Linked DNA regions of Homo sapiens. The protein of the gene in region 3 purifies or fractionates together with the protein of the main gene of each other region. This does not show direct contact. Each region holds a gene or a part of one and is shown on either strand. Other genes may lie near its edges.

Region 1 (3,194 bases), on a different chromosome or scaffold from region 3:
TATATTCATAAAATAGAATGTTTTTCTGAAACTCACTTACCAACCTCTTACTTGAAGTATAAGTTTCTTTGCCTTTTTTTTAGGCACCTTTCTTGGATGTTCTCAACACCATGATGGACACTACACTTCCTCTGACATTAGAAGAATTAGAAGAATGGGGGAATCCTTCATCTGATGAAAAACACAAGAACTACATAAAACGTTACTGTCCCTATCAAAATATTAAACCTCAGGTAGTGAAAGACAATTGTGTTAGATTATCCTGAATTTACACAGAAGATAATAAAAAAAAAACTTATCCAAGCTGAAGCAAAAATAGGAGCTTTAGAGATGTTTCTACTTATGATGCCCAAATATCTTCAGCACCATCTCTGCTCATGCTCCATGTTTAATACCTCAGGGGAATAGACTTATCATGCCTTAATTACTAAATTAGCTAAGGTCCTTTAGTCAAGAAAAGGCTATTCCAGATAACAAGTAGTCTACTACTGTAATACTGAGGCGCTCTCAAGATAGCAAGTGAGAAAAAGCATAGAGCACTTACAGGGAAAAATTGGAGGTAATTATTTTTCATAGTCTCTATAGTGGCAAGGGACCATAAGAAATAATGTAAACTCTTCGTGCATGTATTTTCTTTCAGCATTATCCTTCAATTCACATAACGGCATATGAAAACGATGAACGGGTACCTCTGAAAGGAATTGTAAGTTATACTGAGAAACTCAAGGAAGCCATCGCGGAGCATGCTAAGGACACAGGTGAAGGTAGGAGACCCCCTAGAAGCAGGGAACATGGCCAAACAGACTACTACCCACAGCACACTGCTCAGAGGAATATATTTCAGGCTGTAGCCAAATCATCTGCCCAGGATTTAGGGCAAACAATTATTTTGCTATGTTGACTCCCCAGTTAAAGTGTACGTAACTACATGTCTATACATACACTGCCTCACCTCTTTTTCAAAGGACAGTATTAAAATAGATAGGCAGGACACAAAGGAAACAGGAAATTTAAGAATCAGATATAACTTGGAGATGCACTGCCATACAATTATTAATTCATTTAACAATATTTATTGAGCCGTTATTCTTGGGAATCTCTAAAAGACAGATTCTGAGATTTTTGTTTTGGGCCATCAGTGCCCAAACTGTTTAGCTGCATGAATTTCCTCTAGCTAGCTGTTTCAGCTTTATGAGATAAGAATCCCTCCCTTTTGCCTTGAAACTACATGCCATATCAGTCTCCCTGTATTCATCTCCATTTGTCACCCCCATCCATTGCTGTAGTTGGTGTTTCCAGGGCATAAGACTCTCAGATTCCACAGGGCAGGTTGATGATCTCCTGGGTTTCAACCTTGTCCGTGTGGCACCATATAGTCTTTTCCATACGGCCTCTTCCTGCTTTCGCTGTGTCAGAAGTTTGTCTTCTGTTGCTTGTCCCCTCCCATCTTTTTGTTGATGATGGTGGTTTTTGCTTTTTATTCCTTTACTATTATTTGAACTGAGTACTCAAAGAAGAGGGGAGGAATGGGTCTCGATCTTCCAAAGAAGATCCCATACAATCTTCTAATTGTTCTACATGTTAACTCTTCCAGGCTATCAGACCCCTAATATTATTCTAGATATTCAGCCTGGAGGCAATCATGTAATTGAGGATTCTCACAAAAAGGTATGTTATCAAGGCCCTCTCAGTGGACAGATTCCCGAACTAGATACATGTTGTTTTCACATTTTCAGTGGTTGCAGCAGGTTTATGACAAAGCCACTTCACAAATGTCCTATCTATGGGTGAGACCCAGGAGGGGAGGGAGGGACACTGTGTCAATCAAGAGAAATGTCTCTCTCTTGTACTTGATACGTGAGCTCTGTTAAAGAAAATAATTTAATCTTAATTGTTGGAAGCCTTCTGCCTCTCTCTCGAATGAAAGTATTCTTGCCATAAATTGCTGACTTCACGGTTAGGTAAAGATGGATAGATAAAGAGAAGCTTAAACAGTGGCATTTTACTACAAAGGCCTTCTATTTAATTTTTTTAATGTGTTTCTTTTAGATTACAGCCCAAATTAAATTCCTGTACGAGGAACTTGGACTTGACAGCACCAGTGTTTTCGAGGATCTTAAGAAATACCTGAAATTCTGAAACACTGCATTCAACTGGGAATTGGAAACACACTGAAATATTTCATAGTCTTACTTCCAATTGAGTTAGCAAAAAAAAAATTAATAACTTGAGACTTTTAAGTTATTAATTTTTTAAAATGTGCTTCTCCATCTAAATTTTGCTTAGTCTACATCTCACTTGCTTATACTATTCTCTCCATTGATGCACATGCCCATTAACCTAGGAAAGTAATTTTCAAATCATGCTCCTTAGAAGGATGTGGAGTAGAGGGAAGGGAAGGATTGGTGATAGCAGAGCTCCAGGCCTCCCTTCCAGTCAGAACAGTTGAGCAGTTTACAAATTAGTGTCCTGCCTCTTTGCTAGCAAATGCTTTTAGACACTGTGGCAGTGAGTCATCCTCTAATTTCTATGACTGCATTTTAAGGGAAAAGATAAAATTCTTCCCCTTAAAATTCGTTAAAGTTTTTGAATAATCTGGGGTCCTAATGTGTTCTGGTCATCCCTGATTGATGCTATCTGAATAAAGTTATAAGCTCCTATAAGCCATAATTTACTTTTAAACATTTTATTTTTTTCAAAACATTTGAGAACCTTTCTTAAAGCAGTTACATTCAAGCTACAGAAATATCGAAGAATTAATGATTGTTCACCAAGCAGCATGCTGTACATGAAGCTATTACAAATGCTTACAATCCCACTGAAATGCCAGTGTCTTCATCTCTTCATAAAGGTGCCTAACACGAGGTATACAGTATGTTCAGTACACTGGAATAGCATGCTCGATTGGAAACAAAGCATCTATCTCTGAAAGCTGTTTGGCGATGAAGGAGATTCTTCGTGTTGTGTTCAAAGATGAGTCCCTCTCCCTTGTCCAGAAAAATGCCACTTGTATCAACTTTACTGCCTTTGTCGGCAGAATTGGTACTTAACCTTATTCTCATTTTAGCGGGAAGGCCCGAAATCATATTATGTAGATTTAACAGTGTTGATTCTCCAAAATTCAGAACCACGATAAAGATTCTGTCGATGCCATCCAGCTCTCTTGTGTACACAACATAGTGGCTGTCATTCCT
Region 2 (3,250 bases), on a different chromosome or scaffold from region 3:
AATGGGTCAGAAGAGCCCAGGGCAGGAGGCTGCGGAGGGGCTGGTCCATCTCTCCCACACCATGAGACCCCATTTTGCGTCTCCCCGCCCCATGCCACCTGCAGACAAGGTGAACCGGGATTCCGTGCGCTCCATCCAGAAGAGCATCTTCACCGTGTGCCTAGATGCAACCATGCCCAGGGTCTCAGAAGACGTGTACCGCAGCCACGTGGCAGGCCAGATGCTGCATGGGGGCGGCAGCAGGCTCAACAGCGGCAACCGCTGGTTCGACAAGACGCTGCAGGTGAGGCCCGGCAGGGCTTCGCCCACTCACACACACCTGAACAGGACCTCTGCAGCCTCGGGACTTCCTGCCCGTCCCCGGCCCTGCGTCCCCAGCCTCCTAGCTTGTAAAGCAGGCAGGAAGCCAGCAGGCTGGACGCTGCCGTAATTACCAGGCAGCCAGCCTGTCATCACCAGTCCTGCCTCTGGCCTGGAAACCGCTGTCACCCCCAGCACACCCCCTCAGCACCTCACAGAGAACCTGGGATCCGGGGTCACCAGTGCAATCCTGGCACAACAGTCCCTCTCCACACCTGTAAAATGGGGTGATGGTCAACCTCACCGGTAGAGTAGTTTGAAGGACTCAGTCAGGCACGCTGAGCGTGGGATGTGCTTAGCACACCAGGGCACCTGGTGAGTGTCAGCTATTGTTAATAACAGTAATAAGTCATCATAGCCCCTTGAGATGGCTTCAGAGAGGCCCTTGCCTCAACCAAAGAGTGGTTGGGTGAGGGGCCACCCCCCAGGGCCCTGGGGCTGACCGGGGTCTCCCTTCCCTTCCACAGTTCATCGTGGCAGAAGATGGCTCCTGTGGGCTTGTGTACGAGCATGCTGCAGCGGAGGGGCCCCCTATTGTCACCCTTCTGGACTATGTCATCGAGTACACGTGAGTACAGTCACATCTCTCGCCTAGTTCCCCAGCTTCTAGTGACAGGTGACACACAGGTGATAGACCAGCTTATAGAGAAATATCACTCTCCTTTGTGCCTGGGAATCTGTTTTTTTCCAAGGAAGCCAGCCAGATATGGTGGCTCACGCCTGTAATCCTGACACTTTGGGAGGCTGAGGTGGGAGGATCAATTGAGGTCAGGAGTTTGAGATCAGCCTGGCCAACATGGTGAAATGCCATCTCTACTAAAAATACAAAAAAAAAAAAAATTACCCAGGTGTGGTATCACATGCCTATAATCCCAGTTACTCAGGAGGCTGAGGCAGGAGAATTGCTTGAACCCAGGAGGCAGAGGTTGCGTTGAGCGGAGACTGTGCCACTGCACTCCAGCCTGGGTGACAGAGCAAGACTCTGTCTCAAAAAAAAAAAAAAAAAATTAGGCCAGGTGCAGTGGCTCATGCCTATAATCCCAGCACTTTGGGAGGCGGATCACCTGAGGTCAGGAGTTCAAGACCAGCCTGGCCAACATGGTGAAACCCTGTCTCTACAAAAATTAGCCAGGCATGATGGCGGGTGCCTGTAATCCCAGCTACTTGGGAGGCTGAGGCAGGAGAATCGCTTGAACCCGGGAGGCAGAGGTTGCAGTGAGCTGAGATCACACCATTGCACTCTAGCCTGGGTGACAGAATGAGACTCTGTTTCAAAAAAAAAAAAAAAAAAGTTAGCCACGCGTGGTGGTGGGTGCCTGTAATCCCAGCTACTCAAGAGGCTAAGGCACAAGAATCACTTGAACCCAGGAGGTGGAGGTTGCAGTGAGCCGAGATCGTTCCATTGCTCCAGCCTGGGTGACAGAGCAAGACTCTGTCTCAAAAGAAAAAGAAAAAAATTAGCCAAGGTGGCGGGCATCTGTAATCCCAGCTACTCAGGAGGCTGAGGCAGGAGAATCGCTTGAACCAGGGAGGCCAAGGTTGCAGTGAGCTGAGATCACATCACTGCACTCCAGCCTGGGCAACAGAGCAAGACTCCATCTAAAAAAAAAAAAAAAAGAAAAAAGAAAAAAAAGCTGAAGTGAGGGTGGTTTTCAGAACAAACTCACACCTCCCTGGGCTGGCCCCCTCCAGCTTCAGGTACCCATCCTCCCCACCCTGGTCCCAGAATGGACCCAGGCTCTAGAGGCACCAGCATGAGCCTGAGGCCCCGTTTACTGTGCAGGAAGAAACCCGAGCTTGTGCGGTCTCCCCTGGTGCCCCTGCCCATGCCCAAGAAGCTGCGGTTCAACATCACCCCCGAGATCAAGAGCGACATCGAGAAGGCCAAGCAGAACCTCAGCATGTAAGTGCCTGCCCCCGCCATCCCTGTGCTGGATGGGTGAGGCCAGGCCCTTGAGCTTGAGAGGCTCCTGTGCCAGCTCTGTCATGACACCCAGACCCTCCGTGGGGTTGGCAGGGGCTGCCGGGGCCTGCTCCTCACCTGCTCTTCCCACACCCCCAGCATGATCCAGGACCTGGATATCACCGTGATGGTGTTCCACCATTTTGGAAAAGACTTCCCCAAGTCGGAGAAGCTAAGCCCAGATGCCTTCATCCAGATGGCTTTGCAGCTGGCCTACTACAGGTGCGCCTCTGTGGCCCACCCATGGAGGAGGGAGGAGACCTGGGGGCAGGGGAGGGGGTGCCCGCCTCCAAGGGGCGTGCTTAGCCCCATTTCCCACCAGGATCTACGGACAGGCATGTGCCACCTATGAAAGTGCCTCCCTGCGCATGTTTCACCTGGGCCGCACCGACACCATCCGCTCGGCTTCCATGGACTCACTCACCTTTGTCAAGGCCATGGATGACTCCAGCGTCACGGTGAGAGGTCTGGGGCGAGGGTGGGTGAGCTGGGCCTGAGCCCCTCCCTCCTGCTCACTCAGTCAACACACAATAATTGAGCACCTACAGGATTCCAGCCCCATGGTGGGCACGGGGAATCTAACAGAAGCTGGAGCCGTGAATCTAGCTCTGAGCTTCCTGGGGACCAAAGAGGAAAAGGGAGTCATTCATTTGTTCATTCATTTATTCATTGGCAGTAAGCAACTGCCCTATGTCAGGCCCTGGCTGAGGACCAAGGAGTTGGTAGTTGCAATACTCGCTCTTTTTTTTTCTTGTTTTTTTTTAGAAAGAGTCTCACTCTGTTGCCCAGGCTGGAGTGCAGTGGTGTGATCTCGACTCACTGCAACCTCCACCTCCCGGGTTCAAGCAATCCTCCTGCCTCAGCCTCCCAAGTAGCTGGGACTACAGGTGCCTGCCACCATGCCCGGCTAATTTTTGTATTTTTAGT
Region 3 (3,927 bases):
ACAAAGTTTAATTGAGCAAAGAACAATCTGTGAATTGGGCAGCTCCCAAAAGCAGAATAGGTTCAGAGTGACTGCAGGGTTGCCACACCTGGTTAGATAACGTTTATGGACAGATTCCTAGAGCTTTTGATTCTTTTTTTTTTTTTTTTGAGGCAGAGTTTCACTCTTATTGCCCAGGCTGGAGTGCAATGGCGTGATCTTGGCTCACTGCAACCTCCACCTCCTGGGTTAAAGTGATTCTCCTGCCTCAGCCTCCTGAGTAGCTGGGATTACAGGTATACACCACCAAACCCAGCTGGGATTACAGGCATGCACCACCATGCCCAGCTAATTTTTGTATTTTTAGTAAAGACAGGGCTTCGCCATGTTGGCCAGGCTGGTCTCGAACTCCTGACCTCAGGTGATCCACCTGCCTCAGCCTCCCCAAGTGCTGGGATTACACGTGTGAGCCACTGTGCCAGGCTGGAGCTTTTGATTCTTAAGTCCATCCACATGGAGCCTCCAGCAACTCAGGAATTACAGCATAAATGTTCCTATTGGTACTGGCTCCAGCAACAGGCTTCTGCTCCCTGTAAGCTATGGTTCTTTGTATTTGCGTTTCTAATTTGTGAGGCATTCTCTCTTTAACCTTAATTCTCTAATGGATCTAAGTGTTGTTGACTTTTCAGTTTATTGAGCTTTTTTCTTATTGTGAGGATGGGAATGATGACTTCCAATCTCTTTATATTAGAAAATATAAATCAGACTAGAGACTGGAAATTTTTGTTGTTGTTGTTGGGTGTTTTGTTTTGTTTGTTTTTAGACAGGTCTTGCTCTCTCATCCAGGCTGGAGTTCAGCAATGCGACCGTGCTCACTGCAGCCTCGACTTTCTAGGCTCAGGTAATCCTCCCACTTCAGCCTCCTTAGTAGCTAGGACTGTAGGCATGCACCACCATGATGCCTGGCTAGTTTTTTTATTTTGTATTTTTTGTAGACATGGAGTCTTGCTACATTGGCCAGGCTGGGTATTACTGGGTATTTCTTTCTTTCCTCCTTTATTTCTTTCCATATTTACTTATTCAATGAATATTTGAGTGCTTATTATATACCAGGCACTGTTCTAGGCACTGGGGATATGGGGATACAGCAATGAAAAAAAAAGATAAATACTTTGTCCTTATGAAATTTGTATTCTAGAGTAGGGAGACATAATGAACAAATGAAAACAGGCATCAGATGGTGATAGGTAGTAAGGAGAAAAAGAAGTAAGGGTAATAGGGAATACTGGGTACTGGATGGGGTACAGATATTTTAAACAGAGTGGTGAGAAATAGTTAATACAGCTAGCAACATAAAAAAGGAGAAATATCAAACTGCAAACTGTTTTAGGAAGATAAATCCTTCATAGACCCAAAGAAGCTCACAATTTAGATGTCGAAACTAGTTTCTGCAAAAAGGGGAAAATGTGATTGACTTGGTTAAATATTCAGTATTAAATTTTATTGAATTTGTCTTTAGAAAAATTTCATAGTTAGAACAGGCCTTACCCATTTTGCACATATATACATATGCACCACCTTTGCAGTGGCAACATATATATCCACACTATAAACATACCACATTTATAAATCTTGTAAGGACAAGAAATGGAGTTGAATAAGTACCCCCCAACATATACAAGAAAGTTAGCATACTTACCCCGTTTTTCACTACATCAGAGGCAAAATAAGAAATCTTTTAAGAAAATCTCAAGACTGGCTCATGGCAAAATGAATATGCTAAATTTGGGGGTTGGTTTAAGCGTGGTATGTGTCAGGTAATTTTGTGATTACCAAAAAGTTTTCACTTGAAAACTAAGACCTTTGCTGTTTATTTCACAATGTGAAATCAATAAACCTGAGGATACAAGTCTCTGTAGTGATATTCTGTATTTACTCATTTTTACACATTTTTGAATGCAATTTTGCTAAGGAAGGAAAGCTTACAGATGCATAAAATGTAACTGGGAAGAGTAGCCATAAAAATCAATGAATGGATGTGGCTGGGCAAGAGCCTCTGTAATACTAATACGCTGAATGGCTAATAAGTCACTTCATTTCGGTGAAACAAATACCTAAATTCTTTGAAGAATTAACAGGCTTGATGTTCAGGTCTGCTTTTGGCAAATGGGCATTTAAATACTCCAAGAAGGTAAGAGCCAGAAAATAGGAAGGTAACTATGCTTTTAGAAATATGTTTACTTAGATTCTCCCAAGGTTTATACTTACAGGTAAACTTAGAACAATAGCTCAAATACCTACATAGGAGAAGGAAATCTCAAGGGAAAACAGTTAATTTTAAAGTTATTTAAGAAACAGAATCCAACACCATAGATCAGAGTTCATGCTAGGATTATCATTTCAAAAATAATGACTCATCCAACAGATATAGAATAATAGCACTTTAAAGATGTTTAAGAGTAAAGCACAAACCATGTATATACCAAGACTTAGCTAATTCTCTGAGAGTTATAACTTAAGACAATAAAATAATTAAAAATAGTGTTAACATTAAGTAGAATGCAAATCTCTATAGATGGTTTCCTGGGAAAGTAGTTTTGATAAGCTTTCCTAGCATTGATCATCTTCAAAAAAGCATCAATAAACAGTCCATGTCACTTGCTTTAGTTTGTTTGGGCCTACTAATTGCTCCAACACTTCTCGGGAATGATCTATAAAAGAAAACAATGACAATATATTAATTGACAATAAAAAATGTTTAATGTTTCCTCATGTCTAACTGGAGGTGATGTTAATTATTATACAGTTATTTAAAGGATTAAAGGAGGTGATCTATAAAGCACAATATACAACTAACTCACTAATAATTAATTAATGGTAGCCCTCACTATTATTAGGTGTAGTGCACCTATCATGGTATTACTTGTTTAAAAAAAAAAAACAGGCATTTGTTGTTTTCTCTGTAATTTCATCATAATTCCACCAACCAGAGTAATGGTCTAATTTCACCATTAACCTGTGTTAATGGTTAATAACTTTTTTCAGGATCTTAGCCGGAAATAGATGATTCACTAAAGTGGGGTGACTGAACAGCATTTAATGAAGGGAATATTTACCAAAAAAGTAGGATTAAAGAAAGCCAATAGGTACGGTAAACCACCTTGGGAAGCTGCAACACACCCAAAGGGTTAAAGGAGGTAGTAGTCACCGAACGTGACAAGTTGACCTGTAGCTGAACATTTTTCCATGTCTGTATAATACTACTATAAAGCATGATTTTAAATAGATAACCATTATATAAATACACTGTAATTTAACCAATCTATATTATTGGACATTTAGATGTTTTCAGTTTTTCACAATGTACAGTCGTGATTTTGATATGGTTTCCATCCTAGTTTTAGGATGTCTTTTAAAAATCTGAATTAAAGCAAAAATACTGATAAAATTTTGTTAGTTTAAATATTACTCATAAGTTTAATAAACTTGTTTCCATAGATACAACCTATGTTTTATGTACAACATATCTCTAACCTAGTCTTGGAAATCCTGTAATTTGGTGGTTCCTAGACAGATTTCACAGACCAGTAGAAAAAAAAAAAAAGATGGGCCCAACATATACAGTGACAAAATTTTATTTTAAGTTTAACAAAATTAAGCAAAAATACCAAGGTTTATTGCCAGCAAGAGAACCAGAGAGTGTATAGAAATGAAAAGTTATTATCATTGGGAAAACAAAGGTTTACAATTTTTTAAAAAAGCAGCTAGTAAGATAAATGCAGTTTTATTCATGGTCATAAAAATATTATTGGTTATTGTAGAGGAAATCTCAATCAAAGATAGATTCAAATTATGTTGAAAGTAAAAGAATGGACAAAGACATACCATTTAAATGGCAACCATGACAAAGCTGGGTGGCTATAGAAGAAGGGGGAAACACTTTCCAAC
Region 4 (3,500 bases), on a different chromosome or scaffold from region 3:
GATATCTGCGTTTCCTCCTTTCCTTGGTCCTGAGTTTATATTTTATTTACTTTATATTCTGGAAGGAGGCGTGATATAAGCAAGTTACTTTACCTTTTTTTCACAAACTCTTTGAACTAATGTCACTTTAGACTATGCTGTTTCCATCACGCAACTTTAGTGTGGTTTAGGATACGAACGTCTTAATATCACATAGAAAAATTTAATGATCTTTGCTCAGTTTTGTCTTTAGTGATCTTATTTAATTTTGTTATGGTTCATTCTGTTATCTTGAAAACCAACTTTGCTTGCCTCTCTTCGTTTTCAAAATTGTTCTCTCTTCTTTCCTAGTTCTTTTTGAATTTCCTCACTGGGTAAAAACCCTGAGGCTGAGGCCTTTGTCCCTTTCCCACTTGTCTGCCTTCTCAACAGCGTATCCCTTCTTTCAGCTTTGACTCTCATCTTTGTGTAGGTAATACTTCACCTCTTAATCCAAAGCTCTGTTCTTAAATTTGTCGCCACATATTCAATGACTTCAAATTTTAAGTCTGTACCCTGATATTCATTCTTTTCTCCAATTCAACCTATTTTGCGTACTGTTATGAGAGTAATTTTAGAGTTTTAATTTGAAAATAGCACTCTCTTCCAGAAAACCAGCAGGATCTGGAATGAGCATTATATTAAAGTCACAAACTATGTTATGGTTTATGCCAGCACTTGCCCATATGGACATTTTTATCATACTTTTCTCTGTTAAGCTGGTTATACTTATTTCCATAAAGTCCAGAAGTATGTATCCTATCTTAGTGAATGGTCCCTAGGAAGAGTCAGAGGGATAGAGGTAAGGGGCATTATTAAGTTTTTTTATTTGGACATTTATTTTTTAATGAGAAAGGAAAAGAGATACATAACAGAAATTGGGCTGGAAAAATACCAGCATATGTATGTTGTTAGAAAATAGATAATTCATACAGGATGCAATATTGAAAGTATTCTGTTAAAACAACAATGAGGTCACTTTCCCCTTCTCAGATTGGCAGATGTTAAATCAAGTAATTGGGAAAATAGGAACTCTAGCATTGCTAGTAGAAGTATAAATTATTAGTTCAGTTACTTTAGGCAGTTTGGTAGTTTCTGTTAAAAACTGCATAGCTGTGATGTGGTAGTTGGATGTTTGCATATCTACATGAAGTCGTGGCATTCAGAAATATTTGTAATTACACAAATAAGCATGCTTTAAAATATATTTATATTTAAAAGTAAAAATGCAAGCAAAAATGATTTCAGCTAGCTTTAGTTAGTATGGATTTATGTTTTGATAGTTCAGCTTTATGTTTTGATAGTTATGGACAATGAAGGGCAAAGAAAATCATCGAGGTGTATACTCTGAAAATTGAATTTTTTTTTTTTGAGATGGAGTCTCGCTCTGTCACACAGGCTGGAGTGCAGTGGTGTGATCTCGGTTCACTGCAACCTCTGCCTCCCGGGTTCAAGCCATTCTCCTGCCTCAGCCTCCCGAGTAGCTGGGATTACAGGCACCCGCCACCATGCGTGGCTAATTTTTGTTTTTAGTAGAGATGGGGTTTCACCATGTTGGCTGGGCTGGTCTTGAACTCCTGACCTCAGATGATCTGCCCGCTGTGGCCACCCAAAGTGCTGGGATTACAGGCGTGAGCCACCGCACCTGGTCTGAACATTGAATTTCAAAGTAAGATGAAATGCTTATGAATTTCAGCGAACATTGAATTGGGTAGATTGAACAATACTAGTAAGGAAGTTGAGTTAGTATTTGGCAGATATAAATATTAAGTTTTAGAACTGAATGACAAAACCTCTGTTAAAATGGGGGCACATGTTTTTATGATCCTTCAGTATTGCATTTGGTTTTAATTTTAAAAGCTAACATATTTACAATTCACTTAAGCTAAAATCAAGGTGGAAAGTATGTTTAATTTTTTCCTTTGGGCTTCTCAGGCAGCCCCTTAGTTATTTTTGATTTCTTCATTATTAAAAATTTTTTTCTAGGTGATGATTATCAGTGAGTTTTAGTTTTTTTTTTTAAATTTTATTTTTATTTATTTATTTATTTTTGAGGTGGAGTCTCACTCTGTCACCCAGGTTGGAGTGCAGTGGTGTGATCTCAGCTCAATGCAACCTCTGCCTCCTGGGTTCAAGTCGTTCTCCTGCCTCAGCCCCCCATGTAGCTGGGACTTACAGGCACGTGCCACCACACCTGGCTAATTTTTGTATTTTTAGTAAGATGGGAATTTACCATGTCAGCCAGGATGGTCTCGACCTCCTGACCTTGTGATACGCCTGCTTCGGCCTCCCAAATTGCTGGGATTACAGGCGTGAGCCACTGCACCCAGCCCAGTTTTGTTTTTTTAAAAGCAAGTGAAAAAGGTACCAATAACTATATGTCATAACATTTTTGTGACCTAATATTTATATTGAAATGTGCATCAGTCATTGATAACTTTGTCCATGATCTGTAATTAACAAACTCATGCTGTTAATTTATAGTTTTATTAATATTTGGATGAAATTCACTGAAAGAACAAGAATTAGATTCTGAGGGGTTTAGTCTCCTGGACTTTTAGCTGCATATTTCCAGACCTTACTCTTTTATAGAGAAGTCTACCTACCTCAAAGTCAGCTAATCCATGAAATGACTACCAAATAGAATTCAGCCTTTTTTATGAGGCAATATGTAGGCCAGCTAAAAGGGAGGGGGGGCACTATTTTAGTCCAAAGATAAATGTCACTTTGAAAGAAATTTGCTGAAGATATTTGTGGGTTTCTTTGAGTTTTAAAAAGTTATTTAAAAGAAATCAGGCTGGGCGTGGTGGCTCATGCCCGTAATCCCAGCACTTTGGGAGGCCAAAGCAGGTGGATCAGTTGAGGTCAGGAGCTTGAGACCAGCCTGGCCAACATGGTGAAACACTGTCTCTACTAAAAATACAAAAATTAGCCAGGAGTGGTGGCGGGCACCTGTAATCCCAGCTACTCGGGAGGCTGAGGCAGGAGAATCGCTTGAACCCAGGAGGTGGAGGTTGCAGTGAGCCGAGATCATGCCGCTGCACTCCAGCCTGGGTGACAGAGCGAGACTCTTGTCTCAAAAAAAAAAAAAAAAAGAAAGTAATAGTAAAAGGCTGTACTACTTCCTTCTTGTGATATTTGAAATGAAGAAAAATTATGACCATATAAGCTGAAAGCCTAATTATAGAATTTGTGTGAGGGAGCTCAATCATGTTAAATCCTATATAAATTAAGGTTATATTTTATAGTTGCCTGTCTGTGCCTTTTCACCTTTAAGTCATTTGCTAGTAAGAGAAATGCTTAAGAAAGGTGAGTAAACAGATGTATTTATAAAAATAGTTATTAATTACTGATATCTCTCAGTGAGGTACATAGCTTTCACATAGAGATACTGTTAGTACAGTTTTACCCTGAAATCTACTCAGGTGCAAAATTGCTTTGGTTATGAAACACATTACTTGTGAGTCATCACTGCACTTAGT

What was found. The genes of interacting proteins can lie anywhere in the genome.
Region 1: the proteins of ETFBKMT (region 3) and PREPL purify together in Homo sapiens (affinity purification with mass spectrometry; one large-scale study listed by BioGRID and IntAct). This does not show direct contact.
Region 2: the proteins of ETFBKMT (region 3) and CRAT purify together in Homo sapiens (affinity purification with mass spectrometry; one large-scale study listed by BioGRID and IntAct). This does not show direct contact.
Region 4: the proteins of ETFBKMT (region 3) and GLS purify together in Homo sapiens (affinity purification with mass spectrometry, with the first as the bait; one large-scale study listed by BioGRID). This does not show direct contact.

What each region holds. Positions count from the first base shown.
Region 1 is NC_000002.12:44,320,301-44,323,494, reverse strand, and holds part of PREPL (prolyl endopeptidase-like), read left to right. Parts: intron 1-83; coding exon 84-233; intron 234-640; coding exon 641-764; intron 765-1,057; exon of another isoform or gene 1,058-1,594; coding exon 1,595-1,668; exon of another isoform or gene 1,669-2,049; coding exon 2,050-2,139; 3' UTR 2,140-2,855; coding exon of another isoform or gene 2,856-3,194. Other genes in the region: amino acid transporter heavy chain SLC3A1, read right to left, coding at 2,856-3,194. UniProt on the Homo sapiens protein: Serine peptidase whose precise substrate specificity remains unclear. Does not cleave peptides after a arginine or lysine residue. Regulates trans-Golgi network morphology and sorting by regulating the membrane binding of the AP-1 complex.
Region 2 is NC_000009.12:129,097,544-129,100,793, reverse strand, and holds part of CRAT (carnitine O-acetyltransferase), read left to right. Parts: intron 1-104; coding exon 105-283; intron 284-827; coding exon 828-928; intron 929-2,143; coding exon 2,144-2,263; intron 2,264-2,422; coding exon 2,423-2,545; intron 2,546-2,645; coding exon 2,646-2,781; intron 2,782-3,250. UniProt on the Homo sapiens protein: Catalyzes the reversible transfer of acyl groups from carnitine to coenzyme A (CoA) and regulates the acyl-CoA/CoA ratio. Also plays a crucial role in the transport of fatty acids for beta-oxidation.
Region 3 is NC_000012.12:31,669,688-31,673,614, forward strand, and holds the end of ETFBKMT (electron transfer flavoprotein beta subunit lysine methyltransferase), read left to right. Parts: 3' UTR 1-2,616; coding exon of another isoform or gene 2,617-2,690; 3' UTR 2,691-3,427; downstream 3,428-3,927. Other genes in the region: protein AMN1 homolog, read right to left, coding at 2,617-2,690. UniProt on the Homo sapiens protein: Protein-lysine methyltransferase that selectively trimethylates the flavoprotein ETFB in mitochondria. Thereby, may negatively regulate the function of ETFB in electron transfer from Acyl-CoA dehydrogenases to the main respiratory chain.
Region 4 is NC_000002.12:190,883,821-190,887,320, forward strand, and holds part of GLS (glutaminase kidney isoform, mitochondrial isoform 1 precursor), read left to right. Parts: intron 1-3,500. UniProt on the Homo sapiens protein: Catalyzes the first reaction in the primary pathway for the renal catabolism of glutamine. Plays a role in maintaining acid-base homeostasis. Regulates the levels of the neurotransmitter glutamate, the main excitatory neurotransmitter in the brain.